Homo sapiens: one gene and its partner. The protein of the gene in region 2 purifies or fractionates together with the protein of the main gene of each other region. This does not show direct contact. Each region holds a gene or a part of one and is shown on either strand. Other genes may lie near its edges.

What was found. The genes of interacting proteins can lie anywhere in the genome.
Region 1: the proteins of ZNF433 (region 2) and ANKHD1 purify together in Homo sapiens (affinity purification with mass spectrometry, with the first as the bait; 2 studies listed by BioGRID). This does not show direct contact.

What each region holds. Positions count from the first base shown.
Region 1 is NC_000005.10:140,404,713-140,412,196, reverse strand, and holds part of ANKHD1 (ankyrin repeat and KH domain-containing protein 1), read right to left. Parts: intron 1-7,484. UniProt on the Homo sapiens protein: May play a role as a scaffolding protein that may be associated with the abnormal phenotype of leukemia cells. Isoform 2 may possess an antiapoptotic effect and protect cells during normal cell survival through its regulation of caspases.
Region 2 is NC_000019.10:12,025,470-12,032,953, reverse strand, and holds part of ZNF433 (zinc finger protein 433), read left to right. Parts: intron 1-2,755; exon of another isoform or gene 2,756-2,814; intron 2,815-5,759; exon of another isoform or gene 5,760-6,760; intron 6,761-7,484. UniProt on the Homo sapiens protein: May be involved in transcriptional regulation.

The sequences.
Region 1 (7,484 bases), on a different chromosome or scaffold from region 2:
GGCATGGTGGCACGCACCTGTAATCCTAGCTACTTGGGAGGCTAAGGCAGGAGAATTGCCTGAACCCAGGAGGCGGAGGTTGCAGTGAGCTGAGATCCGCCACTGCACTCCAGCCTGGGCAACTAAGACTGTGTGTCGGAAAAAATTAATTAATTAAATTTAATTTAAAAATTAGCAGGGTACGGTGGTGTGCGCCTGTGGTCCCAGACACTTGGGAGGCTGAAAGGGGAGGATCGCTTGAGCCCAGAAGGTCAAGGCTGCCTGAGCCGTGATTGCGCCATACGATCGTGAGCCACTGCACTCCTGCACCACCGCACTCCAGCTTGGGTGACATAACGGGACCCTGTCTCAAAAAAAAAAAAATTTAAAAAAAGGCCAGGCACAGTGGCTCAAGCCTATAATCCCAGCACTTTGGGAGGCTGAGGTGGGCAGATAGTCTGAGGTCAGGAGTTCGAGACCAGCCTGGCCAACATGGTGAAACCCCATCTCTACTAAAAATACAAAAAAAAATTAGCTGGGTATGGTGGTGGCCGCCTATAATCCCAGCTACTCAGGAGGCTGAGGCAGGAGAATTGCTTGAACTCGGGAGGCAGAGGTTGCAGTGAGCCAAGATTGCACCATTACACTCCAGCCTGGGCAACAGAGTGAGACTCCGTTCTCAAACAAACCAAAAAAAAAACAGCCAAAAAAAAAAAAAAACTTTTCCAACAAGATCAACTATGGATTATAAACTATAATAGTTTGAAAGAGGCATTTATAAGCAACTAATTAAACTCATTAATATAATGCATCAAAAGAAAGTTAGGAGAATCTGGAAGGTAGGATAACTAGAATGGGAATCAGATGGCCTATTTTTCAGTCTTGACTGCTACATATTAACTGTGTGATCTGGGCAAGTCATTTAGCTCAACAGTTCCCAGACTTCTGAGGCTTTTATCCAGGGTCCCAAATGAAGTTTCCAGTTGATATTCTGTTAAGTACAGATAGTTTTAAAAATTCATTTTGTAAAAGTAGGAAGAGTATTTGTCAAAATAGAAAAAAGTGGGAAAAAATAGCTTCATTAGAAATTCACTACATCCTGCTTATTTTCTCCATTTTACTTTACATCTGTGAAAACTTCAATAGGAACTAAACAATGATTTATTTAAAAAACAGCATTTGGTAACCAAAAACTACATATTTCTTAATTTGAAGCAAAATAACAGTATGGGCTCTAAATTCAGTATCACATTCAAATCCCACCTTTACCAGTCACTAGCCATATAACATTTTAACCATTTTTTTGTTTTTTAGATTCATTACTCTAAAAACTCTCTGAGCCTACACTTATTCATCTATAAAAATGTAGATAATACCTACCTCAAAGGGGTGATGAAACGATTAAATAAAATAACGAAAGTATCTAGTACGGTACTGGTATATAATAAGCATTCAATAAATGGTAGCAGTTACCTAAAAATGAGATGAGATAGGATTATCACCAAGATTCTATGACTCTATAGACAAGCAATAGGAGAGGGAAATGTGATCAATAAGGTCTGTGAAGACAGATACATTGAAACAGTTCCTTTATAGTGGGTTTAAAAAAAGAATTGATTTTATTTATTACAACTTTAGTTCTGAGAAAGTAAATTTGGCCAAAAAAAAAAATTTGGTAAACTTGTCATTTATTTTGTTTACTTGCCAATTCAAGGCTAAAACTGTTTAAAACTGTTTTGCTTTTCTTTAAAGTAACATATTTTATTTATATTAGTGATCACTGAATCAGAAGGCCAGAACTGATTTTGAATTCATCTAGTCAATCAGCACTCTACTAACAAATAGACTCAGAAAGGAATGTGCTTAAACTCACCTCCATCCTTCATTCATAACATAATTTATCACTTTAATTTTTTAAAAAAGTCTAAATCCTTCTCAAATTTACCATTTAAAAATTTCACATAAATAGCATCTTACCATCTGTGTAACAGTAGGGAAAATACACATAGTTGTATTTTCATAAAGAAATTCTGAAAGGCTATATAATACTTTTATTAAAAGTATAAAGAGCAAGATATGTGGGAGCAGGGTGAGATTGAGACTTCACTGTATCTGCCCTTATATTACTTTGACTTATGAACTATATGAATGTAATTATCTATTGAAAATATACTAATAACAACAAAAACCTCTCATACTTAAAGTTTCCCAAAAAGTTTTCCTCCACCCATACTAATCAACTCTGCATCAACCCCACCATTCACATAAATATACTTATCAATGCATCATTTTATATGTAAAGTCTTAAGGCTTTACATCATGAAGCTTGTGAAAGGTTGATATTTGTGCAACATACAAAAAATTGTGGCTGGGCGCGGTGGCTCACACCTGTAATCCCAGCACTTTGGGAGGCTGAGGCGGGTGGATCACAAGGTCAGGAGACCGAGACCATCCTGGGTAACACAGTGAAACACCGTCTCTACTAAAAATACAAAAAATTAGCCGAGCGTGGTGGCACGGGCCTGTAGTCCCAGCTACTCAGGAGGCTGAGGCAGGAGAATCACTTGAACCCAGGAGGTGGAGGCTGCAGTGAGCCGAGATCCTGCCACTGCACTCCAGCCTGGGTGACAGAGCAAGGCTCCTCTGACTCAAAAAAAAAAAAAAAAAATTGTTACAGTAATAACATATAATTCTTTTTATTCAATAAGCATTTCCAAAGTCTCCAAAATTAGCCCACTAGAATACAAAGTTATATTTCCTATGTTATCACTACAAATGATAATTTATGGAATAAAGCATTTCTACTTTGAACAAACTGGAAGTCCCCATAAAAGTTTTTTAAAAATTCATTTTCATGGACAACTGAACTTTTTGAAAAATAATATATTTTAAGTGAAAGTTCCCCAAAATGATACATTTACCATAGAAAATTTACAGCAGTGCATGCTAGTTTTATATTAAACCTTTCAGTACCTTCTATTTCTCCCTTGTTCAGGTTATAAGCATAAGTCCTGAAATGCTATTAAAAGCAGTGACTCACCTTGTTTACCTTAAGTTTGAATACAGAGTATAACAAAACTACCATTCCTGACAAGAGTGGCCTCTAGACCGGTAGCTCTCAACCAGGAGTGATTTTGTCCCTAGGAGACATTTGGCAACGTCTGAACAATTTTTGGCTATCATAATCGGGTTCTACTGGCATCTAGTGGGTAGAGGCCAGGGATGCTTCTAATGCACAGGAGAGCCCCTCACAACAAAGAATTCTCTGTCCCAAAATGTCTATATGTTGCTCTTGAGAAACTGCTCTAGATTATAGATCATACTAGCCAAGTATTGTGGTGCACACCTATAGTCCCCTGTAGTCCTGACTACTTGGGAGGCTGAAGCAGAAGGATTGCTTGAGCCCAGGAGTGGGAGACCACATAGAGTTATGACCATGCCACCGCACTGTGTAGCCAGGGCAACAGCCAGCCTGGGCAAAAAAGCGAGACCCCCATCTCTCAAAACACATAACGGTAAAAAAAATTTAATTAAAAATTAAAAAACAGATTATATATAGATCATAAACAATCTTAAAGGATATGACCCAACTCCTTACCTACTGGAGAAAATCAGGATGGGATTTCTGTATGACTTTTGCTTTTGATGTTAAAAGTAATTTTCAGGGAAAAAGGAATCCCTACAAAGCTTGTGCTATATTTTCAGAGCTAAATACAATTTCTGCGTGCTTTTATATAATTGTAAATACAGCACCTGCTTCAAGAAAAAAACCTCAGTGTGATATAAAGCTACACTTTTAAATTTGATATGCCTTTAAAGTATGTGTATATGAACATATATACATATATACATAGAAAGATAGGCCTAGAAAATTTACTGAATGAAAAATTTTAATATTGGTTACCTTGAAGGGTAGAATTTGAAGAATTAATGGGGGTGGGAAGAAGCACTTTTACTTTTCCCCTTATACCTACTATCTATATTGTTGAGTTTTTCAACAAGTAACTATTTTGTAATAATTTTATTATTTTCTAATTTTTTGAGATGGAGTCTTGCTCTGTTACCCAGACTGGAGTGCACTGGTATGATCTTGGCTGACTGCAGCCTCCGTCTCCCGGGTTCAAGAGATTCTCCTGCCTCAGCCTCCCAAGTGGCTAGGATTACAGGCGCCTGCCACCATACCCAGCTAATTTTTGTATTTTTAGTAGAGACAGGCTTTCACCATGTTGGCCAGGCTGGTCTCAAACTCCTGACCTCAGATGATCCATCCGCTTTGGCCTCCCAAAGTGGTGGGATTACAGGCGTGAGCCACCGCGCCCGGCCACTTTTGTAATAATTTTAAAAGAGGGCCGTCACACACACACATACACACACAAACACACATATACACACACATTCATTCTTACGACAAAAATTGAAAACCATGTCTCACACAATCTTTTCTTTAGAAACTGTATTTTTATTTCGATTTGCTAAAAAAATTAAAAGACCACAATTCTAAAATTAAAATTTAAAAATTGGTTTTTCGGTCAGGCACAGTGGCTTACAACTTGTAATCTCTGCATTTTTGGAGGCCCAGGCAGAAGGATCCCTTGAGGCCAGGAGTTCAAGACTAGCCTGGGCAACATTTTTTTTTTTTTAAATCAGGTGGAGTGGTGGAGTACACCTCTAGTTAGACCTAGCTCTTTGGGAGGCTGAGGCAGTAGGATTGCTTGAGCCCAGGAATTCGAGGTTGCAGTGAACTATGATCATGCCACTGCATTCCAGCCTGGGTGACAGAGCAAAAGCCCATCTCTAAAAATAAATAAATAAATAAAAATAGGCTGGGTGTGGTGGCTCACACCTGTAATCCTAATCTCAAAATAAATAAATAAAAATTTAAAATAAAAACCATTTTTTAAAGTGGTTTTTTTTTTTTTTTTGGAGATGGAGTCTCACTCTGTCACCCAGGCTGGAGTGCAGTGACGCGATCTCAGCTCACTGCGACTTCTGCCTCCCAGGTTCAAGCAATTCTCCTGCCTCAGCCTCCTGAGTAGGCTGAGATTGCAGGTGCGTGCCACCACGCCCACCTAATTTTTGTTTTTTAGTAGAGATGGGGTTTCACCATGTTGGTCTGGCTGGTCTCAAACTCCTGATCTTGTGACCCACCCACCTCGGCCTCCCAAAGTGCTGGGATTACAGGCGTTAGCCACCGCACCAGGCCTAAAGTGGTTTTTAAGAAATTTTTAACCTAACTTCTATTCTGAACATGGATACATTTCTTAATAGGATTCAATGCAGTGCTAGCTCTTCTAATCAAGGGCTTCGATAGCTAAGAAACATGCTAAGAATGCCTGAAGAAATACGAAGCAGGTATTTACCCCAATGTTTAAAATAACAAAAGGGCCAGGTGGGTGACTCACGGCTGTAATCCCAGCACTTTGGGAGACCTAGGCGAGCAGATCACCTGAGGTCAGGAGTTCGAGACCAGCCTGGCCAATATGGTGAAACCCCCATTTCTGCTAAAGATAGAAAAATTAGCCAGGCATGGTGGCACGCACTTGTAATCTCACTACTGAGGCAGGAGAATCACTTGAATGCAGGAAGCAGAGGTTGCAGTGAGCTAAGATCGTGCCAGCCTGGGCGACAAGACTCCATCTCAAAAAAAAAAAAAAAATGTACTGAAAGATGTGAGTCCATTCCTCTAACCAAAAGGTCTTTTGCTTGGCCAGCAAGAAAGAGTAGCTTGTTTTTTCTCAGCTCTTGGCTCTGATATTAAATATAAAGAGGTCCTTAGAGGGTCTACTCCTCTGTACACAAAATGTAGAAGACCAACTAATTCTAGAGCAAAAATACTAGGGCTCCACATTTCTTATTTCTCACCTAATCCTGCCCCATTAGAGCAACAAGACAAACTTCACTCCCAAACTACACACCAATTCATCATCTTTTTGGATGTCTAGGTACTTGTTTCTAAAATAATTTATTTTTTTTTTTTTTTGAGACAGAGTCTCTCTCTGTCACCCTGCCTGGAGGGCAGTGGCGTGATCTCGGCTCACTGCAACCTCTGCCTCCTGGGTTCAAGCGATTCTCCTCCCTCAGCCTCCTGAGTAACTCAGATTACAGGCGCCCTCCACCAAGCCCGGCTAATTTTTTGTTTTAATAGAGACAGAATTTTGCCATGTTGGCCAGGCTGGTCTCTAACTCCTGACCTCAGCTGATCCACCCGCCTTGGCCTCCCAAAGTGCTGTGATTACAGGCGTGAGCCACCATGCCCGGTGGTTATAAATATTTAGGAAAAATGAAGGCCAGGCATGGTGGCTCACACCTGTAATCCCAACACTTTGGGAGACCAAGGTGGGAGAATCACTTGAGGCCAGAAGTTTGAGACCAGCCTGGCCAACGTGACAAAACGCTGTCTCTACCAAAAATATAAAAATTACCTGGGAGTGGTGGTGGATATCTGTAATCCCAGCTACTCAGGAGGGTGAGACAGAAGAATCGCTTGAACCCAGGAGGCGGAGGTTGCAGTGAGCCAAGATCGTGCCACTGCACTCCAGCCTGGGTGACAGAATGAGACCCTGTCTCAAAAAAATAAATAAAAATAAACAAAATATTTAGGAAAGATGAGACGGAGGATTTTAGTATTATTCATCAAATGCCAATTACATGAGTATTTTTTGAAGAACACTGTTACCTTTTCACACTGAAAATTCAAAGGCAATAATAATAAAAGAAGACAGCTCATCTTGTCAGACAGAAAAAGAAAAGGGAAAATTTTTGCTTGGCCAAAACAGGTCATTTTATTCACAAAGGCACAGACTATACTCTACCACACATACTATAAAGACTAGATACTCCAAGAATTTCCTCTCTATGTGATATGGGAGAAACAGGACCCAAAAAAAATTTCCTGCTTACACAGATTAAGAAAGCATCTATACACCCACTAAGCATCATCTTAGATTAGGCTAAAGTGGGTATCCTAGAAACTTCCATTCCAAAAATGAGGTCTACATGTACTCTTAACCTGTAAATCCTTTTAGGCACAGAAAACATAAGTAAACAGGAGAATATGGGGCTCTTCTAACATTAGGCACCACTAAGTGGGTGTAGGAATCACCAACACATGACTTCTACAATAAGCTTCAAAAATACAAAAGGCATGGATTCTGCCCATAGCTTTAATTACATGGTATGGAGACTCCAAAGACCATTACACATACACACACACACACACACACACACACACACACACACACACACACACAGACATGCACAGTCAGAAAGAGAGAGAGACAAATTTATGACTTTGGGGGCAAACTAGTGCTCTACCTGTGAAGAAATTTAAGACTATTACTTATAAAAAAGCAAATGGTTGCCAGGCACAGTAGCGTGTGCCTATAGTCCCAGCTACTTAGGAGGCTGAGGTAGGAGGACCACCCGAGCCCAGGAGTTTGAGGCTAGCCTGGACAACATAGCAAAACCTGTCTCAAAAAAAAAAAAAAAATTAAGGCCGGGCGTGG
Region 2 (7,484 bases):
GTGTTCTTTCTAGTCAGCATTGCCCCTCTGTGGGTTTGTCTTTTTGTAAATAATTGTTCACTTATTGCAGCTTCAGGTTTTTTATTAATTGTAATTTGCATTTTTCACTAGACCTTGCAAAATAAGAAAATTTTACACACAGGCCAGAAAGAGGTAGATTTCAGAAAAATGGCTGGATGCAGTGGCTCACACCTGTAATCCCAGCACTTTGAGAGGCCAAGGCAGGTGGATCACCTGAGGTCAGGAGTTCAAGACCAACCTGGCCAACATGATGAAACCCTGTTTCAACTAAGAATACAAAAGTTAGCTGAGTATAGTGGTGCATGCCTATAATCCCAACTACTAGGGAGACTGAGGCACGAGAATCCCTTGAACCTGGGAGGTGGAGGCTGCAGTGAGCTGACATTGCACCACTGTATTCCAGCCTGCACTACAGGGCGAGTCTCCATCTCAAAAAAAAAAAAAAAATCGCTATTTAGTCTTATATTCCATTTCTTAATATGTTTTTTTCTTCTCTGCGGGCAGTGTAGTACATTTCTCAGGTGTATCCTTTTGTTGTGGGTGATTTCCAATGATGTTATAGGGACTAGTTTTAGGAATGCTACTGGAGAAAAATAGGGAAAGTTTACTATTTTAACTGGAGAAAAATGAAATAATTTCCACAAGAAAGTATGGTAGATTGGTGAATTACAAAGAGTACCCAAAATATCAGTTCTGGCCAGGCGTGGTGGCTCACGCCTGTAATCCCAACACTTTGGGAGGTCGAGGCGCACAGATCACCAAGTCAGGAGATCGAGACCATCCTGGCCAACATGGTGAAACCCTGTCTCTACTAAAAATACAAAAAAAAAGCCGGGCATGGTGGCACAAGCCTGTAGTCCCAGCTACTCGGGAGGCTGAGGCAGGAGAACTGGTTGAACCTGGGAGGCAGAGGTTGCGGTGAGCCGAGATTGCGCCACTGCACTCCAGACTGGGCAACGGTGAAACTCCATCTCAAAAAAAAAAAAAGAAAAAGAGAAAGAAAAAAAAAAAACAGTTCTTTGCAGGATGGAGGACTTTTTTTTTTTTTTTTTAAAGGGTCTTGCTGTCACCCAGGCTGGAGTGTACTGGTGTGATCACAGCTCACTACAGCCTTGACCTCCTGGGCTCAAGCAATCATCGTGAGCCTCCCGAGTAGCTGGGCTCACAGGTGCATGCCACTCTGCCCAGCTAGTTATTTTTTGTAGGGATGAGGTCTTCCTGTATTGCCAAGATTTCGTGTCTTATTTCCACAAAGAGTCTGTTTTGTCTTTTGATATTACTTTATTTTTTAGACAGAGTCTCACTGTGTTGCCTAGGCTGGAGTGCAGTGGCACGATCTTGGCTCACTGCAACCTCCACCTCCTGGGTCCAAGCGATTCTTGTGCCTTAGCCTCCTGAGTAGCTGGTGACTGCCACCACGCCCAGCTAATTTTTGTATTTTTTTTAGTTGAGAAGGGGTTTCGCCATGCTGGCTAGGCTGATCTTGAATTCCTGACATCAAGTGATCCGCCCCTTCTTGGCATCCCAAAGTGCTGGGATTACAGGTGTGAGCCACTGTGCCTGGCTTGATATCTATTTTAACATGAATGTTGGTCAGCTGCTTTGTTTTTTTTTTTGTTTTGTTTTTTTTTTTTTTTTGAGATGGAGTCTCACTCTATCAACAAGCTGGAGTGCAGTGGCGCAATCTCTGCTCACTGCAACCTCCGCCTCCTGGGTTCAAGCAAATCTCCTGCCTCAGCCTCCCAAGTAGCTGGGACTACAGGCACGCACTACCACATCCAGCTAATTTTTGTATTTTTAGTAGAGACGGGGTTTCACCGTGTTGGCCAGAATGGTCTCAATCTCTTGACCTCGTGATCTGCCCACCTCAGCCTCCCAAAGTGCTGGGAGTACAGGCGTGAGCCAGCCACACCACTGCAACCCCCACCTCCCAGGTTCAAGTGATCTTCCTGCTTCAGCTTCCCAAATAGCTAGAACTACAGGTGTTTTCCACCACACCCAGCTAATTTTTGTATTTTTCATAGAGACGGGGTTTCACCATGTTGCTCAGGCTTGTCTCGAATTCCTGAGCTCAAGTAATCCTGCCTCCACCTCCAAAAGTGCTGGGATTACAGGCATAAGCCAGTATGCCCAGCTCTTTTAGTTATTTCAAAATGTACAATATATTATTTTTTACTATAGTCAACCTGTTGTGCTTGCAAATGCTTAGTCTTATTCATTTTTTCTGTGTTTTTGTACCCATGGACCCTCTCCATTGGTCTATATTTCCATCTCTCTGTTAATATCATTTTCTCTTTATTAGTATAGATCTCAAAGCTGTGATGTATTCTAGGGCTAGTGCCTATCTATCTTAGTCATCTTGGGCTTTTATATCAAATTCCCATAAACCGGGTGACTTAAAGAATAATTTCTAGGCCGGGCATGGTGGCTCACGCCTGTAATCCCAGCACTTTGGGAGGCTGAGGCAGGTGGATCACGAGGTCAAGAGATCGAGACTATCCTGGCCAACATGGTGAAAGCCTGTCTCTACTAAAAATAGAAAAAATTAGCTGGGCTTGGTGATGCGCACCTGTAGTCCCAGCTACTCAGGAGGCTGAGGTAGGAGGATCACTTCAACCTGGGAGGCAGAGGTTGCAGTAAGCTGAGATCATGCCACTGCACTCCATCCTGGTGACGGTGAGACTCCGTCTCAAAAAAATAAAAAAATAAAAAAATAAACATTTCTTTCTGACAGTTCTGGAAGCCTGGAAGTTATGAAGTCCATGTTCAAGGTGCTGACAGATCTGGTGCCTGGTAAGAGCCTGCTTCCTGGTTTGCAGATGGCTATTTTTTTTTTTTTTTTTTTTTTTTTGAGATGGAGTCTTGCTCTGTCACCCAGGCTGGAGTGCAGTGGTGCGATCTCGGCTTACTGCAACCTCTGCCTCTGGGATTCAAGCAATTCTCCTGCCTCAGCCTTCCGAGTAGCTGGGATTACAGGTGCCTGCTACCGTGCCCAGCTAATTTTTTGTATTCTTTAGTAGAGGCAGGGTTTCACCATCTTGGCCAGGCTGGTCTCAAACTCCTGACCTCGTGATCCACCCACCTCAGGCTCCCAAAGTGCTGGGATTACATGTGTGAGCCACCGCGCCCGGCCAGCTATTTTTTTATTTTTTCACATGACAGAGAGAAAGAGGAAACAAGCTATCCTGTGTCTCATAAGAGTACTAATCCCATTCACGAGGGATCTACTCTCATGCTCTAATCTAATTCTAATGACTTCTCAGAGATGCCATCTTAATTCCATCGTATTACAGGTTAGGGTGTCACTGTATGATTTGGAGTGGGAAAATGCAAACATTTATGTCATTAACATCCCTTAGTCATATTTTATACAACATCCTGGCTTTTTTTTTTTTTTTTTTTTTTTTTTTTGAGACAGAGTCTTGCTCTGTCACCGAGGCTGGAGTGCAGTGGTGCAATCTCAGCTCACTGCAACTTCCGCCTCCCGGGTTCAAGTAATTCTCCCTGCCTCAGCCTCCCGAGTAGCTGGGACTACAGGCACATGCCACCATGCCAGGCTAATTTTTGTATTTTTAGTAGAGAGGGGTTTCACCATGTTGGCTAGGCTGGTCTTGAACTCCTGACCTCAGGTGATGCGCCCACCTCCACCTCCCAAAGTGCTGGGATTACAGGTGTGAGCTACCACACCCAGCTTATGCTGGCTATTCTTAGTCATTGTCTTCTATTTCAGTGTTTAGAAGTAGTTTTTCTTAATTTTAATGAAAAAACAAACCTGCCTATGCATTTCATGGAATATAATAAAATACTAGATGTATTTCAGAGAGATTACATCACAGTGATAATCAGTGTGTGTTTAAGGACATATGACATCTTTACATTTATTACATTTTCCATTGATATCTTTCCATGGGTACTTTTTGGATAATAATAATTTTATATCCTTTCTGAGACTTTTTGGGACTTCAAGAAAATTAATTGCTTTTGGAGGCCAAGGTGGGAGAATGGCTTGAGCCCGGGAGTTTGAGACCAACCTGGACAACATAAAGAGACCCCGTCTTCACAAAAATTAAGAAATTCACCATGTGTGGTGGCAGGAGCCTGTATTATCATCTACTCAGGAAGGTAGGGATAGCTTGAGCCTGGGAAGTCAAGGCTACAGTGAGCTGTCATCATGCCCCTGCACCATAGCATGGGTGACAGTGCAAGAACCTGTCCCTAAACAAAACAAAAATAATAAAAACATTTTTAAAAAGAAAATTAACTGTAATACAAATTTGTTTAACAGGCTATGTTGTCTTTTTAAAAATTATATTCAGTAGGTTGTTGCTGGTATTTCCATGTGCACTGATAGTTATTTCTGCACAGAGTTTCCACTCTAGAAACTAAAAATATTACATATGGTCAAAACACATAAAACAATTTCACAGTGAACCAAAATATTGATGGAGCCAGTATTGCGAATGATAATTATTGTTTTCTTATTTTCTTCATAGTTTCATAACCTGGGTATGCATCCCTATCAGTATATTTTATTTTTACATTTTTTTATGCAGTTGATATCAGATATGTGATATTTTATATCATATTTTATTTTTACTTAGTAACGAACCTTCCATGGAATGGTAGTTCACTTTCTTGATTAATGGATTTTGTTTTTTATAGCAGTAGTCATTTGACCATAACATTGAGCAGATAATCTACATGGGTCCCACTTGTTTTTTCTTAGGTCACAGTTCTTCCTATGGTACTTCAGTCCTATGTACTGGGGAGGCTGTGGTGGGAGGATCACTTGAGCCCAGGTGATTGAAGCCACAGTGAAATATGATCATACCACTGCACTCCAGACTAAGTGACAGAGTGAGACCCTGTCTCAAAAAAACAAAATTGAAAAAAACAAAAAAAGATAAAAGAGTATATGGTCATGCCACTCTGAATGCACCTGATCTTAGCAGCTAAGCAGGTTCAGGCCAGGTTAGTACATGGTTTGTAGAATTCCTGGGAATACTGGTTGCTATAGCCTTAAAAAACAGAAATTGCAAGAGAATTCACCAAATGGAAGAAAGACATGCAAATTCTATACCTGGTCCTGACATATATCTATATCAGCTGAAGCCTAAGTGCCAAGACCAGCTTGGTCATGGAGACCCTAACCCAGTGGTGCTAGAGGAATTAAAGACACACTCAGAGAAATAATAGAATGTGGAGTGGCAAATCGGGGCTGACGGCCTTCAGAGCTGAAAGCCATGAAAAGAGATTTACCCACATTTATTGACAGCAAGCCAGTGATATGCATTGTTTCTGTAGATTATAGATTAACTAAAAATATTCCTTATGTGAAACAAAGGGATGGGCTCTGGCTAGTTATCTGCAGCAGGAACATGTCCTTAAGGCCCAGATTGCTCATACTATTGTTTGTGGGTTAGGAACACCTTTAAGCAGTTTTCCGCCCTGGGTGGGCCAGGTGTTCCTTGCCCTCATTCCAGTAAATGAACAACCTTCAGTGTGGGCATCATAGCCATCATGAACATGTCACAGTGCTGCAGAGATTTTGTTTATGGCCAGATTTGGGAGCCTGTCCCCAACATGTTCCCCCTTTTTGTTTTTGCAAGACAATAAAAGCAAAGGTGGCTTTATCATGGTGAGCTACATCTCGCAGGAGTTGGGATCCACATCTGCAGACTATACAAAGACAACACAGATTAAAAGCACAATCATCATTGAAATCACAGAGCCTCCAAGTGTTTTTATCTATTTTAATGGGTTAATAGCTGCTAATCCATCTGCAGCTCCTTCAAGCACTCCAGTTCCTGGCATTAAGGTCAGGTGTGCCTGGGATGCTTTAAATATTTGTTCTTTTAATTTTGCAATATCCAAGTTTCTAGAGTGTCCTTCTAGATGCTTTTTTATCCTTTCCCAAATTTTGATCTTATTAAGAGCCATTAATAGTTTCCACAAATCCTTATGTTTAGCTCCTACAGCAGGCCATATCATTTGAGGTTGAGGTGCCACTATACCACCATGTTTCCAGATAATAGGAACTCTTGCCATACTTCTTATCATTTCTACCATCTGACCATTTTGTTCAGACCAGCTGAACATAGTGTGGCCATGGCAGGCAGACTGAGAGGTGCAATTCAAGCTAAACATCCCCTTAGGGGAACAATCAATAATGACTCCATAGGAATCGTTGTGCAGCACCTCTGCCTGTTCTGCAATGCAATCTTCCCAAACAAGTACGTTCATTTTTTCTGACCAGGTCCAATCCTGTTTACAAATAGTTTTTTGAGGGCAGTATGCCTCAATTATAGGAGCAGATTATTATGGTAAATACTGAGACCAGAAAGCATGTGTAACTGTGTCATAGAGTGATCACATCCAGGCATTATTGCCAGCCAAGATTGATAAATATGCCCAATAAGTGTAATTGTTCTCTGTGTCAGCCCTTGTTGAAGGAATACTCATGGCAATGGTGATCACCACTGTCATAGCTATCATTAAATTACTCATTGTGACTGGTTGTCCCGCTTTTCTCAGGTTTTTCTCTGCCATCTGTGACAGCTTCTTGATCTGTCCCCAGGCAGTTGTTGCTCGTGACAGTTGGGGTCCTCCTCAGCATCAGTCTTGACATGGCTGCAACCAGGGAGTCTTTGGGATCCTCCCAAAACCTCTTCCTGGGTATCTGGCTCATAGTAAGGCTTTAGATGTCTCAATGGCACCCAGATTGGCTGTTGATTTCATCCTGGGGAAACACAAGCATAACCTCTACCCCAAGTTATTATTTTACCTATTTCCCAACTTTTTGTTATCAGATCTCTCCACCAAACCAGTTGTTCTGCTTCTGTCTTTGCAGCTGGTTTCTGTAGATATTGTTCAGCTGCTGATAGCATCTGGCCTTTAGGCAGGCTCAAAAAATTTAAAGTCAATAATTCTAGATTCAGTTGCATATGGGGTGTCCTGTAGTCCCTGTTTCCCCCTTTTTGCTTTTGCAACTGCTGTTTCAGGGACAGATTCATTCTTTCCACTGTGGCTCATCCTTGAGAATTGTATGGAATGCCAATAATGTGTTTAATATTCCATATGGAGAAAAATGTAGCTAGAGCTTGGCTAGTATAGCCTGGGGCATTATCTGTTTTAATAGAAGCTGGAATGCCCATCACTGCAAAACACTGCAAAAGGTGACGTTTAACACAGGCAGAAGACTCTCCTGTTTGGCATGTAACCCAGTCAGACTGAGAAAAGGTGTCCACACATACATGTACATAAGCTAGTCTCCCAAACGAGGGAACATGTGTGACATCCATTTGCCAAAGAGAATTAGGTTCCAATCCTTGAGGATTAACTCCTCCTATAAAAGATGAGGAATGCACCATTTGGCAAGTTGGGCATCACTGAATAATAGCTTTAGCTTCTTTCCAGGTAATGCTGTATCTGCATTTGAGACCAGAGGCATTAACATGGGTTAA